4 linked regions of the Homo sapiens genome follow. The protein of the gene in region 2 purifies or fractionates together with the protein of the main gene of each other region. This does not show direct contact. Each region holds a gene or a part of one and is shown on either strand. Other genes may lie near its edges.

What was found. Proteins that work in one complex are often made in the same cells at the same time.
Region 1: the proteins of BACH1 (region 2) and RELCH purify together in Homo sapiens (affinity purification with mass spectrometry; 2 studies listed by BioGRID and IntAct, with this or other methods). This does not show direct contact.
Region 3: the proteins of BACH1 (region 2) and ASAP3 purify together in Homo sapiens (affinity purification with mass spectrometry; 2 studies listed by BioGRID and IntAct, with this or other methods). This does not show direct contact.
Region 4: the proteins of BACH1 (region 2) and ATP23 purify together in Homo sapiens (affinity purification with mass spectrometry; 2 studies listed by BioGRID and IntAct, with this or other methods). This does not show direct contact.

What each region holds. Positions count from the first base shown.
Region 1 is NC_000018.10:62,302,203-62,305,754, forward strand, and holds part of RELCH (RAB11-binding protein RELCH), read left to right. Parts: intron 1-3,211; coding exon 3,212-3,332; 3' UTR 3,333-3,552. UniProt on the Homo sapiens protein: Regulates intracellular cholesterol distribution from recycling endosomes to the trans-Golgi network through interactions with RAB11 and OSBP.
Region 2 is NC_000021.9:29,299,947-29,305,444, reverse strand, and holds part of BACH1 (transcription regulator protein BACH1), read right to left. Parts: intron 242-5,498; exon of another isoform or gene 123-241; intron 1-122. UniProt on the Homo sapiens protein: Transcriptional regulator that acts as a repressor or activator, depending on the context. Binds to NF-E2 DNA binding sites. Plays important roles in coordinating transcription activation and repression by MAFK.
Region 3 is NC_000001.11:23,435,680-23,439,231, forward strand, and holds part of ASAP3 (arf-GAP with SH3 domain, ANK repeat and PH domain-containing protein 3), read right to left. Parts: intron 3,552-3,552; coding exon 3,482-3,551; intron 3,156-3,481; coding exon 3,068-3,155; intron 1,794-3,067; coding exon 1,745-1,793; intron 1,642-1,744; coding exon 1,451-1,641; intron 1,366-1,450; coding exon 1,232-1,365; intron 976-1,231; coding exon 881-975; intron 350-880; coding exon 172-349; intron 1-171. UniProt on the Homo sapiens protein: Promotes cell proliferation.
Region 4 is NC_000012.12:57,951,515-57,955,066, forward strand, and holds part of ATP23 (mitochondrial inner membrane protease ATP23 homolog), read left to right. Parts: intron 1-243; coding exon 244-381; intron 382-2,091; coding exon 2,092-2,175; intron 2,176-3,552.

The DNA of each region.
Region 1 (3,552 bases), on a different chromosome or scaffold from region 2:
AAAATACAACAAAATGGAACTATAGGAAGAACTATTCTGAAGAGGAATATTTAAAATGTGAGGCACAGGTAGAGAAACACTATAGGCAGTTCATTGAGATTTAAGAACCATTAGCAGCATATGGGTGGTAATTAAAGGCTTATGGTTGGAGCAGTGGTAGATAAATGATATCACTTGAAAAGGGGGCTCTGATGGGGAGAAGGTGACCAGGCATGGAATTAGACACCAACATTTCAGATGCATATGGAAGAACTTAACTGAGAAATAGAAGGCAAACCAGAATGGTGTTAGAAATCAAGTGGAGATTTTATTTTTGTTTTTGTTTTTGTTTTTTTCAAGATAGAGTCTCACTCTGTCTCCCAGGCTGGAGTGCAGTGGCACCATCTCGGCTCACTGCAACCTCCGCCTCCCAGGTTTAAGCAATTCTCCTGCCTTAGCCTCCCTCCCGAGTAGCTGGGATTACAGGCGTGCACCATCATGCCCAGCTAATTAATGTATTTTTACTAGAGAGGGGGTTTCACCATGTCGGCCAGGCTGGTCTCAAACTCCTGACCTCAAGTGATCTACCCGTCTTGACCTCCCAAAGTGCTGGGATTACAGCTGTGAGCCGCTGTGCCTGGCCCAAATGGAGATTTTAAAGAGAAGAAAAGAGATAAGTAATATAGGACATGAATAGTTTTAAAGAAGATAGGGATATTAGTTGCAAAGAAAAGATCTGAGATTTGCTTGAAAACTTCCAGTGAGGATACACATTACAAGGTAGCCCATTTCATTTTAATAACTCTTTTTAAAAAATTATCTTTTCCTGGATTAAAATCTCCCTTTCCAAAATGCCTAGGCCCTCTAAAACAAGTCTTTATCATCTGGTAGAGGGGTGGGAGAGTGTTACAAACCCCTTTATAAAACTGATAAAAATTTACACTGTGTCTTGGGGTGGGGGCGGAATTGCTGTAATGCAATGATTTTTTTTTTTTAACTGAAAAGCTTTGTAGTATAGACCTGGGCCTCCTACCTCAGATGGAAAGAATCAGAAGTACTGGATTAGGCCTAGGGATCTGCATTTTCAGAAGTTTTCCAGGTGACTATGATGTGTATCAGTAGACCTACGCAGATATATACACCCCTGCAGATATACATTATATATCCAGTTTTTCACATATGATGTATGCAGGTATTGGTTAAGTCACCTAAATCTTCTTCAAGCCAAATATTCTTCATTCCTTTCATTTTTACCTCTTATAGTTTCCAGACTCCTTAACATCATGGTTGGCCTCCTCTTAGAATATCATTAAAACTTGGTATCTCAACTATGGTCTGACCCATACATCCCCTTTTTCTAGATGTAAATTTAAATCATACTTATCTTTTGACTTACACTGAGTTTTCTAAAGAAAGGAAGAGCACTGAAAAGCTAGAATGTTAAGGAAAGGCACCATAGGACTTCAGCTGGGCTTTGAAAGATGGGTAGGCAGTGGATAGAAAGATTTGAGAGTGGTTGAACAATAGACTGGACAAACCTGACTGAAGGGGGTCAAAGAGACAGTCAGTGACAGTGGTATGGAAAAACAAGAAATAGATTGCTACATTTCCTGAATGCAAAGCACATTTCATCTTGTAGGTGGTATGTAAGCATTAAAGATTTTTGAGCTAAGATGTGATATCAAGAAGTGACTTTTAGAAGTTAATCTGGTAATTAAAGATGGAAGACTGTTGGAATCACTGAGTTGTGAAGTATTAGCCATGGAAGTAAAAAGAAACAGTAGAGGAGATGCTTCAAAGAATAAGGTCACAGGACTTGTGATTGGTTTGAAATAGAAGTAGAAGGAGCTATTAAATTCACTGTTAGAAAGAGAGGAAAATAGTAGAACCACTGGCAAAAAGAGGGGGGAGTTAAAATGGAGAGTTATTTCTAAAGTTAGGGCGTGAACAGAAGCTTGAGATGTTGGCTTTATCTAGCAAATAATAGTAATGTGGGACTGACCCTCAGGAAAAGGGATGCGATTCAATTTGAAACTTGGAGAGTAAGTTTTATAATTGAAGAATCAAGAGCCAAATACTGAACCTTAGGGAAGATTACTTTGTGGGAAGAGAAGCAGCAGGAAAGAGAACCCACTGTTGTACTGTCAGAAGAGCAATGTGGAGAAGCTTTTCAAGGTGGGAGTTCTGGTTTGGTTTTTAACTTGAGTAATTCACAGTGCACACCCTTATAGACTACATAGACCCAGGTGTGCTCCGTGGCAGCACACACCTCATGCAGTAGATTCAACAGACATGTTGAGCACCTGCAGCTTGCCACACGTTGTCTTTGACATGTTCAAACACATTATCTTACTTAATCCTCAGAATATTTTACAACAGAAATTGCAAGCTGTGTTTTACAGATGAGGAAACTGAGTCAGAGAGAGCTAAAGCATGTTGGCCAAAGGCACAAGGCAATAAACTAGATTCCAAGTCTATTACAGGACAGTTGTCAGGTCATTGAAAAATTGTGCTTGATCAGTATTCTGTTTCTGTTCAGTACTATGATAAATTAGCAATCTTTAGAGGTCATTTAGATTGTGTTTATTCCCTACAGAGCAGGTTGGTGAAAAAGAAAGAAGAAATGGACTCGAAACTGTTGATTGAAATCAATGCAACTGGCAATTCAGGACATCCCCCAAAAAAGGAATATCCCCCTAAAAAGGAATATACCATAGGATTATTATCAGCACAGCACAAAACTTCATTGCAATTTAATTTACTCATTTGTGAAAATACTGATAATATTTATCTTCCAGGATTGCTGTAAGAATTAAATGAAGTGATAAAGAATAACTACTAACAATTACATCATGCTATTATGTGCCTAGCACTATACTGAGCACTTTACAGTTGTGTTAATATAATCCTAATAACCCTAGGAGGCAAATACTAGAATCATCCTCGTTTTACAGATGAGATTAAATAATTTACCCGAGCTGGTAAACAGAGCCAAGATTCAGTCCAGTCCCAGACTTGTTCCTAACCACTACACATACTGCTTCCTTTACTATAGATAATGAACATGAAAGCTCCTAACCTAGTATGGCATATACAAACTACCCTCCATAAATATTAGTTTCCCTTTTGTGACGCCAATTCAGAGTGTGTTCGTTAATGATATGCTACTAAATAAATGAAAAATTTTTATTTTTTTAATTGCTTTACATGAATTTTAAATTTTCTTTCCTAGCTCAATGTCAATTGCTGCAAGCTTAGTGAGTGAAGATACAAAGACCAAGTTTTTGAACAAAATGGGCCAGTTGACAACATCAGGTGCCATGTTGGCCAATGTATTTCAGAGAAAGAAGTAGAAGCAGGAAAGAAGCCCCCAGTAAACACTAAGATGGACCTCAAGCCGACTGGTTCCTTGTACTTGAAGTACTTGCCTTTTTTGTTTCCTCAGTTTTATGTTCTTGCATTATAATTTTATCCTAACCTCCAAAGATATTTGCACTGCTTTTAATTACTGCTGTATATTTGTTGATTTTGGAGTTACAACTGTGGTGATAGAAAATTGAGTTGATGGTCTGT
Region 2 (5,498 bases):
GCCCTCAGAGACAAAATATACTTTTTAGAAATCTAAAAAAAAATACCTATAGTTTGAATAGCACTTGTGACAGTCTTTTACCACAAAGAGACAACGAAGTAGGGAAAGTTAATCGTAATTACATGCTCATCCCCAAGCAGCATTTCCTTTGACTTCTCTGGATGACAACTGAAACTGAAGGCATGCCAGCAAAGAATCCGAGTGAGCTGGGCAAAATGCTCTCTACTTCAACAGTCTTTTGCTAATGTGAAAGAAAAAAAAAAAAACAAGATTACAAAAGCCAAAAGCTTTTTTTTTTCTTACCTCTTTTAACCTGAATTATGACTCTTACCTAGGGGAGTACCCAAGGCCAGGCTGAGATACACCTCAGAAAAACAGTTGATAAAGAGACATCAGGTACACTGGAAATTGAAGAGGCCTGGGCCAAGATCAGATAACCACTGTACATTTTTTAAAATAATATTTAAATATAAAATACACATTAATGAAATTACAACCTAATAAATTTATTCAATCTTTTATAGCCACATATTTTATAACAAAACTGTCTGATGGATGAGCAACTGCACTAATTTAGCTGACTTCTGAAAGACGCTGGCACACTTTAGAAAATGAATAAGGCAATAAGCATGTGAAGATATCAGTAAAGAGGAAGTTGGGTGGATAGGTCGCCCTATTTCTTCAATAGGACCCTCAGGAGTTCACCTCCTTAGGACAAAAACACCTCCCTAGGGTCCTGGAGGCAGACAAATCAATAAAAAGAAGAGATAACTGGAAAAAAGGTGTGTAGGGGGAGGGAGGGACATTTCCCTTACTATACTATTTACTCTACAGCCTTAGAGGTAGGCTATTACTAATGTCCAGGCTACAAAGGAATTGAAAACCTTTTTTAGTGTAATTCCACTTTAATGAGGGATGGGGAAGTAGAGTGCAACTGTCCACTGACTGATCTGATCTAAAAAAATGATAAATTTAAAAAGTGAAAAAAACTTTACCTGAAAGAAACTGGGAATAATTAGGGGCCAGGCACAGTGGCTCACGCCTGTAATCTCAGCACTTTGGGAAGCCAAGGCGGGTGGATTGCTTGAGGTCAGGAGTTCGAGACCAGCCTGGCCAACATGGTGAAACCCATCTCTACTAAAACACAAAAATTAGCTGGGCATGGTGGGGGGTGCCCCATAATTCCAGCTACTACGGAGGCTGAGGCAGAAGAATTGCTTGAACCCAAGAGGCGGAGGTTGCAGTGACCCGAGATCGCGCCACTGCACTCCAGCCTGAGCGACAGAGTGATACTCCATCTCAAAAAAAAAAAAAAGAAAAAAAAAACTGGGAATAACTAGTTTATTACAAAAATATTAGTTTGAACGATGACTTTCCTAAGGCACTGCAAAAAGTGTTTACATTTATTTTTCAAATAACATGATCTGCACAAAATTTCAGCTGCATTAATGTAACATTTTCTAAATTGTGCCCGTACTGAGAAGGAACCAGCTGCCAGCCAATTTCACTGCATGCCCACTGTGTTTCTACACTGGTCATTAACAACCAAGATTCTGGCTACCACTATTTCTTCTTCCTCACGTTTGCTTCAGGGCAGTTTTTTATTATCCTATGAATATTTGAATATTTTCTAACCTGTCCCTGATCCTAAATAAAACAAAGAACCTGTTCTAGAGGAGTGATATTCAAAGTATTAGACATATAAGACATTTAACATCTAGAAAACCAAATTATATTTTGCTCAATTCAATTCTAATCCAATTATGGGTAAAAATAAGTCACAAGACAAGTTTTATGTCTATCTTAGGAGATGAACTAGAATTACTTAATTCCAGCTGCCTTCTCAATAATCACACCAATGATAAAAACAGAAAGTAGAAAGCTAAATAATCAAAAGAATTTCAACTCAGTGCACACTTACAAGGTACCACACACGATGTTCTCTCCTTCAATCTGTTAAACATTCCCAAGTTTCAAAATCACAGAACTAGAATGAACGCATATCATACCACCCAGTTCAGCAACCAACAGTTTATTAAAGAAACACAGCCAAGGCACATTCAGAGTGCCATAGGAGATAAAACAGAAAGACACAGATTCTCACCATCAGGAAACTTACAATCTGGCTGAAAGAATGGTCAAAATAACACAACCTTTCTGAATTACTAACAGGTACAAAAAGCTATACGATAAATATGTCCATTGTATTCATATCCATTTCATGGATAATTTTTCTGTATTAGTACAGGCATATCATCTAAAGAAAACATAATACTTAGAAGAAACTAATTAGCTTACAAATTTACATTCTAAATGTTTCCAACAAACTGGATAGGGCCCAGGAATATGTACTGAGAAACTAGTTCTGTTCTGGTATTAACAAGAAGGGAGGGGTGGACAGGTTACTAAAGCTGCCAGGCCACAATGTCAACTACAACGTGGAAAAGACTAGCCAAAGAATGGCAAGTGTTTTTATTTCGTAAAAGCCAGTTTCAATTAACTGGTTAGTGACTACCTCAAGCACTCCGCTGAGACTGTTAAGATTCCTTTAAGTAAAAAGCTATGTCCTGTGTTCGTTGCCCTCAGAAGTTGGATGTATGTTTGAGATGGTGCTACTGACTTAACATAAGAGTGTTCCCCGGGTTGTTTTTCCAGTCTCACTTGTGATCAATGCCGGCAATTCAGCTCTCAACAGCTATAAAACACTACTGTGTAACTAAGTACTTCCCTGATTCTGAACAACAGATAATAACACCTAACACTTGATGTTTCTTATAAAGCTGGCACTGTTCTAACCACTTACCCCGTATTAACGCATATAATCCTCACAACAACCTCTCTGATACAGATTCTACTATCACCACCCCTGTTTTACAGAGGAAACAATGAGGCACTAGTTACCAGGTAGAAGAGCTTGCCCAAGGCTTTAAAGTGGGTGACACAACCAGAACCTGACCTTAAGCAGTCTGGCTCCAGAACTACTTTTTAACCATTCTGCTTACTGCTTCTTTGTCAACTGTACAGTGATCAAACCCAGACTTCAGTTATGTTAGTGCACTGTGTAAGCCAGGTGCCTGGGCTTCAGGAGAGTGTAAGTCAATGTTTTAGCTGCAGTCCTGAAATGTTTACTCCCTCCAAGGGGCACGGATTCTGGCGAATTGCACTCAAATTACCCATACCTTGGCCATCGGTACATTACCTCATTTGACATATATTTTAAATCAAAACAATCTCAAAAATCATCGTTCCACCACATAAAATAAACCCTCTGTCTAGAATGCTCAGGGAATGCAGGTTTTAGGGTTAAGACAATTCTCTCATTAACAGAACATTAGTCAGAAAATTAGAAGAGAGGTGGTGATTCCTAAAACGTAAGTCATGGAGAGATCAGCACTATGAAGAGAAAATCTGACAAGTGGTAATTTTAACGGGCTTTGCAACTGTTATTCTGAGCATCACCTCTCACAGTACAGGGGTGTAGAAGGCACATGGCACATGAGATTTAACTGAATGGTAAATACTAACCACCCTCACCGCCGCCACCCGCCCCCAGCACTAGTAGGAGGTTGATATTCTGAATAAATGCCACTTCCCAAGGGATTTACTGAATATGTCGTCTTATTAATCTTAAGAGAACATAAGCTTGGCAAAAAACAAACAAAAAAAAACAGACTTCAAGGAGTAACAGTACAAACTAATTTTTACATATGCTATACATATTACACTCCAATGTGTAGATTATCTTCAAGTATTTCCACTGCACCCTTTTACACATCACTGCACTTCAGATCACATACATTAAACCAACCGCTGGGCTTGTCTCCAAATTCAAAATACAGGTTATCAAATGAAATTCTGTATTTTTTGTATTTCCATCCCCAGTATCAACAATGTAACAAGAAATTTACACTCAAGCTTCTAAAGTAAAACATACAGACAATAGAACTACCTATAAAATAAAACTTAAATGGAATATTAACAGTCTGAAAGAACTCTTAGGAGGAAACCGTAAGTTAAAAGAAAAAGCATTCCGGTTGTTGAAAGAATGTTACTGACAGTGGTTAACAGGCTATGTTCCCCCAGCAACAAAGGGGTGGAGGACATGCACGCGCATTATATAATATGAATACACGATTGTTAGTCTGCATCTTTAAGCTTAATGTCTTTCTTATATTAAAGTTTTTAAAAGTTTTAATATATTCCTTCCAAATGAACCTCCTTGCACCCCACCTTGGAGGCCCTAATACTTACAAAATTCATGATTTCTAATCTCCTCTAGTCCCAGACTTAAAGGAACAAAATAAATCGTTTTTCCTAATACAGAATATTTTAAATGAACTACCATTAATAGGAATCATCATTTTTTTCACCAAAGGGCCAAATTCCCAGCTCTACATTTCCCATTCCTAAACTTTGTTTGCAATGAGGACTCATATAAATATTTGGGTTGTGTGCTCCTTTTTAAAGCAAGAAGCAATGACACCAGGTGTAAAGGCAGTGGTGTCATATAATCAAGACAATGAGACAGGTATTTACGGTTGGCTATTTATTAAACAGCTCTTTCGAGACTTAACCCAATGAGACCTATTAATTCCACCCATATGGTGCTTACCCTCCTCTGACTCCTGAAACTTCTTGTGTATGCATGAAAAGCCAAGGGCCATGAGAAACAGAGCAAGTCCCTTCTGTGTACTCATAACCAAATTTTTATGACGCACAAATTAAGCTCACTGCTTGAAACTTATAGACCACGTAACAGAAACCACAAAAAGGAAACTAAGTCCAGTAAGAGTAGTAAATATTTTTGTTACAATATTTTTTATTGGGTTACCCCTAGCTGCAAATTTCTTCCCCAGTTTTAGCTCTCTCCAGCGCAAATTTATTCTCAGACAGCAGGTCACGAGGCTCCGTCTTTAAACCCGCCTCAGTGCTATTGGCCACTGCCTAAGAGTGCTCTTCCACTTCACCCACTGATAACCTGTATCAAAACAACCCCAGCTGGGTCCCCTTCAGCCTTCTGAAGCAACCTCTCTAGAGCGCTCTTTGGCCTTTTATAGTGGAGGCATGTGATGAGAGTATTTGCACCAGCTGTTTCTAATTACCTCTCAAGCTGGGGCGAATGACTCAGCAACCCAACTTTTTAGAGAGTCATCCTACCTTGTTAACCAACCAACATACCGAACAACAGTAAACCACTTGACAGAAACATAGGTTAAACAACAATACAAGAATCACTACGCCAAAGTCACCCTACTCCAAGCTGACTCACCGGGAGCCTTTCTTCCCTAAGCTTCTTCAAGATGTCCAAAGGCAGAAGTGGCAAGTGCCTTCAAGCCCAGCCCAGCCCTTGCACCACTACCCAAAGACCAGGAAGAAGCAAGCCGACCTCTTCCCATTTCTCTGCTTGACTATGTGAAGCGCTCAAGTGCTCTGCCACTAACACATCTGGGATTTCCACCCTTTATCCTTCTGAACTGCATTCAATGCAGACCCTCTGA
Region 3 (3,552 bases), on a different chromosome or scaffold from region 2:
CACCCAGGTCTGCCTGACTGAAGCTGTGCTCTTTCCCACTTACCACTCTGATGGGTGAGATCTGAGCAGATGTCAGAGGTGGGGTGGAGGGGAGTAACAGCTGGTCCTGGAGAAGAACTGGGGAATATGTTAGACAGGTGGGTTATAAGTGGCCCTTGGAGGGGTTCTCACCTGTGCATCAGGCCCTGGCAGCGGCTGTCCAAAGTCCTGCCCATTGGCAAAGGCCTCCAGTACCGACAGGAGGTCCCTGTTGCAAATGGCTGTCCAGAGTCGCTGAGGCTCAGGTGTGCACCGGCGTGCAAACCTATGCTCCACATACTTGGCCATAATGTAGTCCCTGCGGGTGCCCCTACCAAAAACAACCACAGGATCTCAGAGCATGGACCGTGTCTGCCCAGCTGATCCCTGGGGCCCTCCCACAGGAGATACAGCTCTCTTTTTCTCCAGAACCATGTCCTGAAGACGTCTAGATCTGAGGCTCCCCTCTCCCCAGGCTTTTTTTTTAGACAGTCTCACTCTATTGCCCAGGAGGGAGTGCAGTGGCGCAATCTCGTTTCACTACAACCTCTGCTTCCAGGGTTCAAGCAATTCTAGTGCCTCAACCTCCTGAGTAGCTGGAATTACAGGCGTGTGCCACCACGCCCAGCTAATTCTTGTATTTTGAGTACAGGCGGGGTTTTGCCATCTTAGCCGGGCTGGTCTCAAATTCCTGACCTCAAGTGATCCGCCCGCCTTGGCCTCCCAAAGTGCTGGGATTACAGGCGTGAGCCACTGCGCCCAGCCTCCCCAGACTTCTGATCCAAGACTTTTCTACGACCCTGGACACTGCGGAGGCAGAATCCCCTAGGCAGGGTGCCCCTCTCTCTGAGAATCCCCTTACATGTCACTCTCAGCTGAGGGTTTAGGGCCGCCGTGTGAGGGTAGCTGGGCCTCCATGACCTCATTGAAGCTCGTGTTTCCCATGTTCAAGGCCAGCTGGAGTCGTAGGAAAATAGACGTGGGGCGGAGTAAGACCGGGCGGTTAAGCCTGCATAGGGTGGAGCTCCAAGCCCCCAGAGTCCCGCCCCTCGGCCGCCCTCCCGGTTCAGGCCCCGCCCCTGACCACCCGCTACCTGGCTTGTCCCAGCCCACCTCGGCCAGGTCCCACCCACAACCTGCAAGCCCCGCCCCCGGATGAAACTACACCCCTAACTCCGCTTCTGGCCCCTTCCAGGCCCCGCCCCGCCCTCACCAACAACTCGGAGGGGCCCAGCAGGTCCAAGGTGAGTGACTGCATGCGCGAAAAGCGCACGCCCAGTTCGCGGTGGACGCCCGAGCACTGGATGCAGGTGAGCACGCCCAGGTTGGTGCTGAGCCACGTGGGGTCTGCAGAGGAAAGCAGCTGGAGCCTGGAGGTGCAGCCCCTCCCCTCCACTTAAGCCTCCCTCCTGCCCCGGCCCCGGGGACCGACCTGCAGCCCCGCAGTCGCAGCACTGGCTATTCCCAGGCCTGCTCTTCACCTCCGCGATGAGCAGCTTTGTGAGGTCGTGCGGCTCCCCATCATGGCCGGCGGACCCCCAGGACCCCGGGCCAGCGCTGGGCTCCCCGAGGAAGGCGCTGCTCAGGGCTTCGTCCTTGCTGTTCTGCAACACTGACACCCACCTGCGGAGATTGAACGGGGTGGGATGGGGATGTCAAGTGGGAAGAGATAGGGCCGCCGGCCCCCACCCACAAGGCTGGCCGGGCTGGCCGAGGGGGCACTCACGCCTCACACTCGTGCTCGTCCTCTGCCTGAAAGTGGTACGTCCGGTTGTCTGTCGGGAGAGAAGGGGGCTTCTGACCCACAGAAATGCTGCTGGCCTTCCCGGAGCCCAGGGAGCCCCCACCAAAGCCGCTGGGGCCACATGGAGATGTGTCCCTGACAAGTCGGACTCTCAAGCTAGGAGTGGGAAGGGAGTGGAATGACAGTGGCCAGCACCAGGGGCAGTTTCTCAGAACTGGCCTCCGAAGTAGGATCCCAACAAAGCTCCCTCTGCGTGAAGCCCTGGTTCCAGGCTCAGACGAGGTCTCAAAGGGCTTGGAACCCCAGAGAACCCAGCTCTGAGGCAGGGCATCCTCTGAACCAACTGTCACCACCCCACTGGGCCCTTCCTGGTCTCCTCCTGGGCGACCAGGCCTCCTGTCTGGTCTCCCTGCTTCCCATTTCCCCTTTCCCCTAGCCTGTACCAGCTCCCAACTGTTGTGCCCAAGGCTCTGCTCTAATTACACCACTGCCCTGCCCCAAGATCTCCCATGGCTCTCTATTGCCAGGAAATAAGGTCCAAACTTTTAAGAGGGATTTCCAGGCCTCATCTCTCACTCTGCTACATGAACCCTCCACTCTGGCCAAACCGGCCAGACCCACTCTCCTGCTTCCATGCCTTTCATCATGCTAATCCTGTCTCCTCAAAAGCCCCCACCCCACAAACTCTTCATTCTACATGTCCTTCAAGGCTAAACTCAAATACTGTCTCCTCCAGGAGCCTTTCCTGATTCCCCACAGCAGTGCAGGCCTTCCTGCTCCCTAATCTTCTATGGGGCTATATCTGCACCCATCTTCTGGACAGCCCCCTCATCTTACAGTCCTGGGTACCCACCCCACACCCCTGCCAGAGAGTTTCCTGAGGACAAGATCTAGGTCTTTCTCAGCCTGTGTCTGCTCTCACACAAAGCCTGCACCAAAGGCTCTGAAGAACGAAAAGTAGAAAATGTAAAGAAACAATAATTTCATCTCCTTCAAGTCTGGGTATTTGGGAAAAAAAGGTAAAATTTTAAAAAAAGAAATAATTTCAAAACCCAGATGACCCAAATCCACTCAAATATGCTCTGTATAAATAGCCACATTTATTATGTAAAGTGGGTGCATTTTGACATTTAATGTGATGTGGGTATCCTAGACCTAAGGATTCTTATGTCTGCAGTAGCAGCAATTCGACACCATGTGTGGAACTGGACACAGACCCCTCACTGAAGCCCCCCGGGAGCTGACAGGTGTCTTAGAGAAGCCCTGAGCAGCTGTGGGTGGGGGAGAGGCACAGGGACCACTCACGGGTCACCAGGTCGAAGCACTTTTTCTCCTCAGGGTTTGGCCTCACTTGGCACGTCAGCAGGGTCAGCTTCACCGGGGGCCGGTTTATCTGTGGGAATTTAGGGGCGGAGGATGTATGCATTACCTCTGGCCCTCCACATTCTTTAGGCCTCCATTTCCCACTCTGTTAAATGGGCATAATCATCCTGTTCCATTTGTGTTTCTCCTCACCCAGCAGCACCTCAAGGATGTGAAGTGTAGACTAAGACTAGATTGGGGCCTTCAGGTCCCATCTGTCCTCCCAAACGGGTCTCCAGCTCCCTGGACCTAGGTTTGGGGGCCAGTCTTAGAGGGAGGGCTTGACATTATTTGCTCAGAACACCAGAAGAAGAGGGTCCATCGTGCCCTGAGACTCCCACCACCTCTAGGCCTCACCGTGCTGTGTGAGATGGTCAGGCAGCCATACTTGACTCCACACTTCCTTTTCTGCCAGACTCTTCGAATTC
Region 4 (3,552 bases), on a different chromosome or scaffold from region 2:
ACTGCTGTAGTCCAGAGAGAGGAGAAGGGAGAAGTTAGTCACTGGGCGAGGCAATTGGAGCATGTACACTTAGGACTAGGACTTGTCCCATGGGTAGATGTGTGGCCAATGAAGAAGAGTGGGTAGAGATATTCCAGGCAGGTGAGCTTGTGGGGGAGAGGTGAGGTCATGTGGGAGAGAAGATCGAGTCTATGGAAGGAGATTTTAGAATCACTGAACTTCTTTTATTTTGGTGTCTCCTAGATAGTTTTGTGCCAGAATAATATCCATAATCAGGCCCATATGAACAGAGTGGTCACACACGAGCTTATTCATGCATTTGATCATTGTCGTGCCCATGTCGACTGGTTCACCAACATCAGACATTTGGCGTGCTCAGAGGTGAGTTTTATTGTATTTTTCTCCAGAATACTCTATGCTTGAATATTTTATTCAAGTGTAATTTATTTAAATGTATTCCTTTTCTTACTGTCATAGTTCTACCTTAGTCTTGAATTTCGGTTTATAACTAACATTGAATACCATTTTTGATATACAGTTAGAGAAATTTAAAGTGTATTTTTAGAATTCTCTTAACTATATCCTGTAAGTCCTAGTAATAGTGATGACTGACTTTAATAAGCTATTAATTTTTTCCTATGGAATATATTTTATAATGTATTCCATAGGAGACATTAATAATAAAAATAAAAATAAAAAAATAATTAAAATTTACTGAGGGCTGTGTTCCAAACACTGTTCTGTTTGCACAGATTCTTATTTAATCTTCACAATAACCTACTGAGATAGATATTATACTATTATTGTCCCTGTTTTACATATGTGGAAAGTGAGACAGTTGTTTAGATTCCAAAGTTAGTAAGTGGTAGAGGCAGGATTACAACTAGTGTTTTTAACTAGCTTGCCCAGCTGCCTTCCATAGAGCTCCTTGCTTGCCCTAGAGTAAAACATGCTCTTTTCAAAAATACAACATAAAAAGATATTTATTACTAAGCACGTTGGATTGCTCTTGGAATATGCTCCTAGAGAGAGCGTATTCTGCATATGCATATACTTGGATGTCATTAATTGAAGAGTTAATTAAAATAATCTAAATCTCAAGCCTATACTATATAACTTCGATTATTTCCCTTTCTCTTGAAATTAATATGTAGCCCCCTGCATCTAATTATAATTCCAATTATTTGGAGAATAGACTGAAACCTGAATTTTTAAATAGGTCTCTTTCTTGGGTACTGTGAGAATTAATGCCTTTTAGCTAGTTAAAGTGTGTTAAGTACTTTGAGCTCCTCAGAGGAATGAGGCCATAATATTGAAGAAGGAACAAGAAGTGGGCCATTCTGTTAGCAATGAATTAGCAAAAATGTGGTCAAGCTGCCTGTAGAATCTATGTGGGTAGTTCTAAGACTTTTTCATTCATTGAAGTATAGTAAATCTGAAAATATGTCCTAATTTCAGGCTGTCATGCTCATAGCGTGACCAGTTTGGAATGTTCTTGATTCTTTGTGTTTTGTATTGCTTCATTTTTCATAGGACAATCAAGTCCCTAGAGGAAGGTCATGAACTTATATAGGTTTGAGGGAAGCTCCAAGGGAGATTCGGGCAAGGGTTGGGAGGGGCATATTCTCAAAGTGTCTCAGATATTAATGCATTCAGTTTTAAGGTCACATTGAAACTCAGTTTATTTCAAGAATGCTTTCTTGAAGTACTTTTGGCAATTTCTACAAGTATTTGTATCTTGTAGAGTGTGTAGTTTAACTCTGAGGTCTAGCTCTCTGACTTTTGGTTCCAAAAGAAATTAGTTCTGTCAGTAAAGCTACGCATAAAGTTTAGAAAATTTCCTTTGGTAGGCGATTGAACTTTTCCCCATCTCTCCAGTGTATTTGGCATTGTCTAGCATAGCTCATAGATATTTGCTCTCGTTGTCAATAGAGTTTAAAAAGTCCTTTAAGAAGAAGTGTCACAAATACTCTTTTCTCAGACAAAGATGCTAATTTTATATTCTTTTCTAATTTTTAAAAATTGGTTGATATCATAAAGATATATAGAGCATGAGCGTTTATTTCTTTTTATTTGTCTTCTGTGTGATAGGTTCGAGCTGCTAACCTTAGTGGAGACTGCTCACTTGTCAATGAAATATTCAGGTTACATTTTGGATTAAAACAACACCACCAGGTAAAAACTAATATGAAATCACTTCCCCTCCAGAGTGTTACGAGTGGAAATAATGAATAAAGAAATGAAAAGTACATTCAGTATTTGAAATTTGAAAGAACTTCGTATGTGAAAAGAATACAAAGTATGTACCATTTAAACAAAGTAGATGGAATTTAGTTCTACTTTGTAATTATGGGCAAGCTATGTGACTCAATGAGTGTGTGAGATAGTCTAATAATGAAAAGAGGCCTGGTGCGGTGGCTTATGCCTCCCAGCAGTTTGGGAGGCCGAGGCGGGCGGATCACGAGGTCAGGAGATCGAGACCAGCGTGGCCAACATGGTGAAACCCCGTGTCTACTAAAAATACAAAAAAATTAGCTGGGCGTAGTGGAGCACACCTGTAGTCCCAACTACTATGGAGGCTGAGGCAGGAGAATCACTTGAATCTGGGAGATGGAGGTTGCAGTGAGCCGAGATCATGCCACTGCACTCCAGTCTGGGCCACAGAGTGAGACTCCATCTCAAAAAAAAAAAAAAAAAAAAAGGAGCTAAGATCTTGCATCTGGGATACTTTTCGATGGGGGTGGATAAGGAATGGAAGTGAAATCACAGCATGTCTTACTGTTATTCTAACAATTCTTGACTTCTATTTTGAATCTACCATAGCATTCTGGAGACAAAAGATGTAATCCCTTTCAGAACAGAGAGTGTGTTGCTGCACAAGTTATGGCTATGTGTCAGTGTACCTGTAAAGGCTATATAATGTGATAGAAAACCTTTGGCTTAGCACAGACTTGAGTATGATGAGCTTAGCTGAGAGGGATTTGTGTGAACAAAACAAAAACAAAAAACAAAAGAGAGCTATAAGGCAAGATTATCCTGGTAGAAAGGCTTTGAGATCTGTATTAGGTGGACGTGGGGAAAGAAAGTATAGGACTCATGGATTGATAATGAATGTGAGCAGTTCTGCCTGGGCCTGTGTCCACATTTAGGAGAAAGGCTGGTCAGTCATTTTCTACAGTAAGAGCCTGCTGAGTCAGTTTGTGAAGTATATGAGCATCACGATATCAGTTCCAACTAGATGAAAAAAGATAGGCTTAGGACAACAGGAAGGCCCTTGGTTTTCTGGAGAAGAGAGTAACTCAACTCTGGAGTGGGGGGTGGAAAGTCACAGTGAGCTACTCAGAAATTGTGAACTTAGTGAATGGGAGGGAGAAGAAAAGCCTTCTGCCTGGAAAGGGTGATTACTCTAGACAGTGAGGTGTTCAGCCTCTGCCAGGTCAGCTTAGTGATATGCCAGTGACTTGTCTTGTGCTGCATGTTTTCTGTGCCCTTGAGTCCCTGCTTCTCTGGTGAATTCTGTGTGTTCTGGCTGTCAGTGGAGAGGGTGGAAGC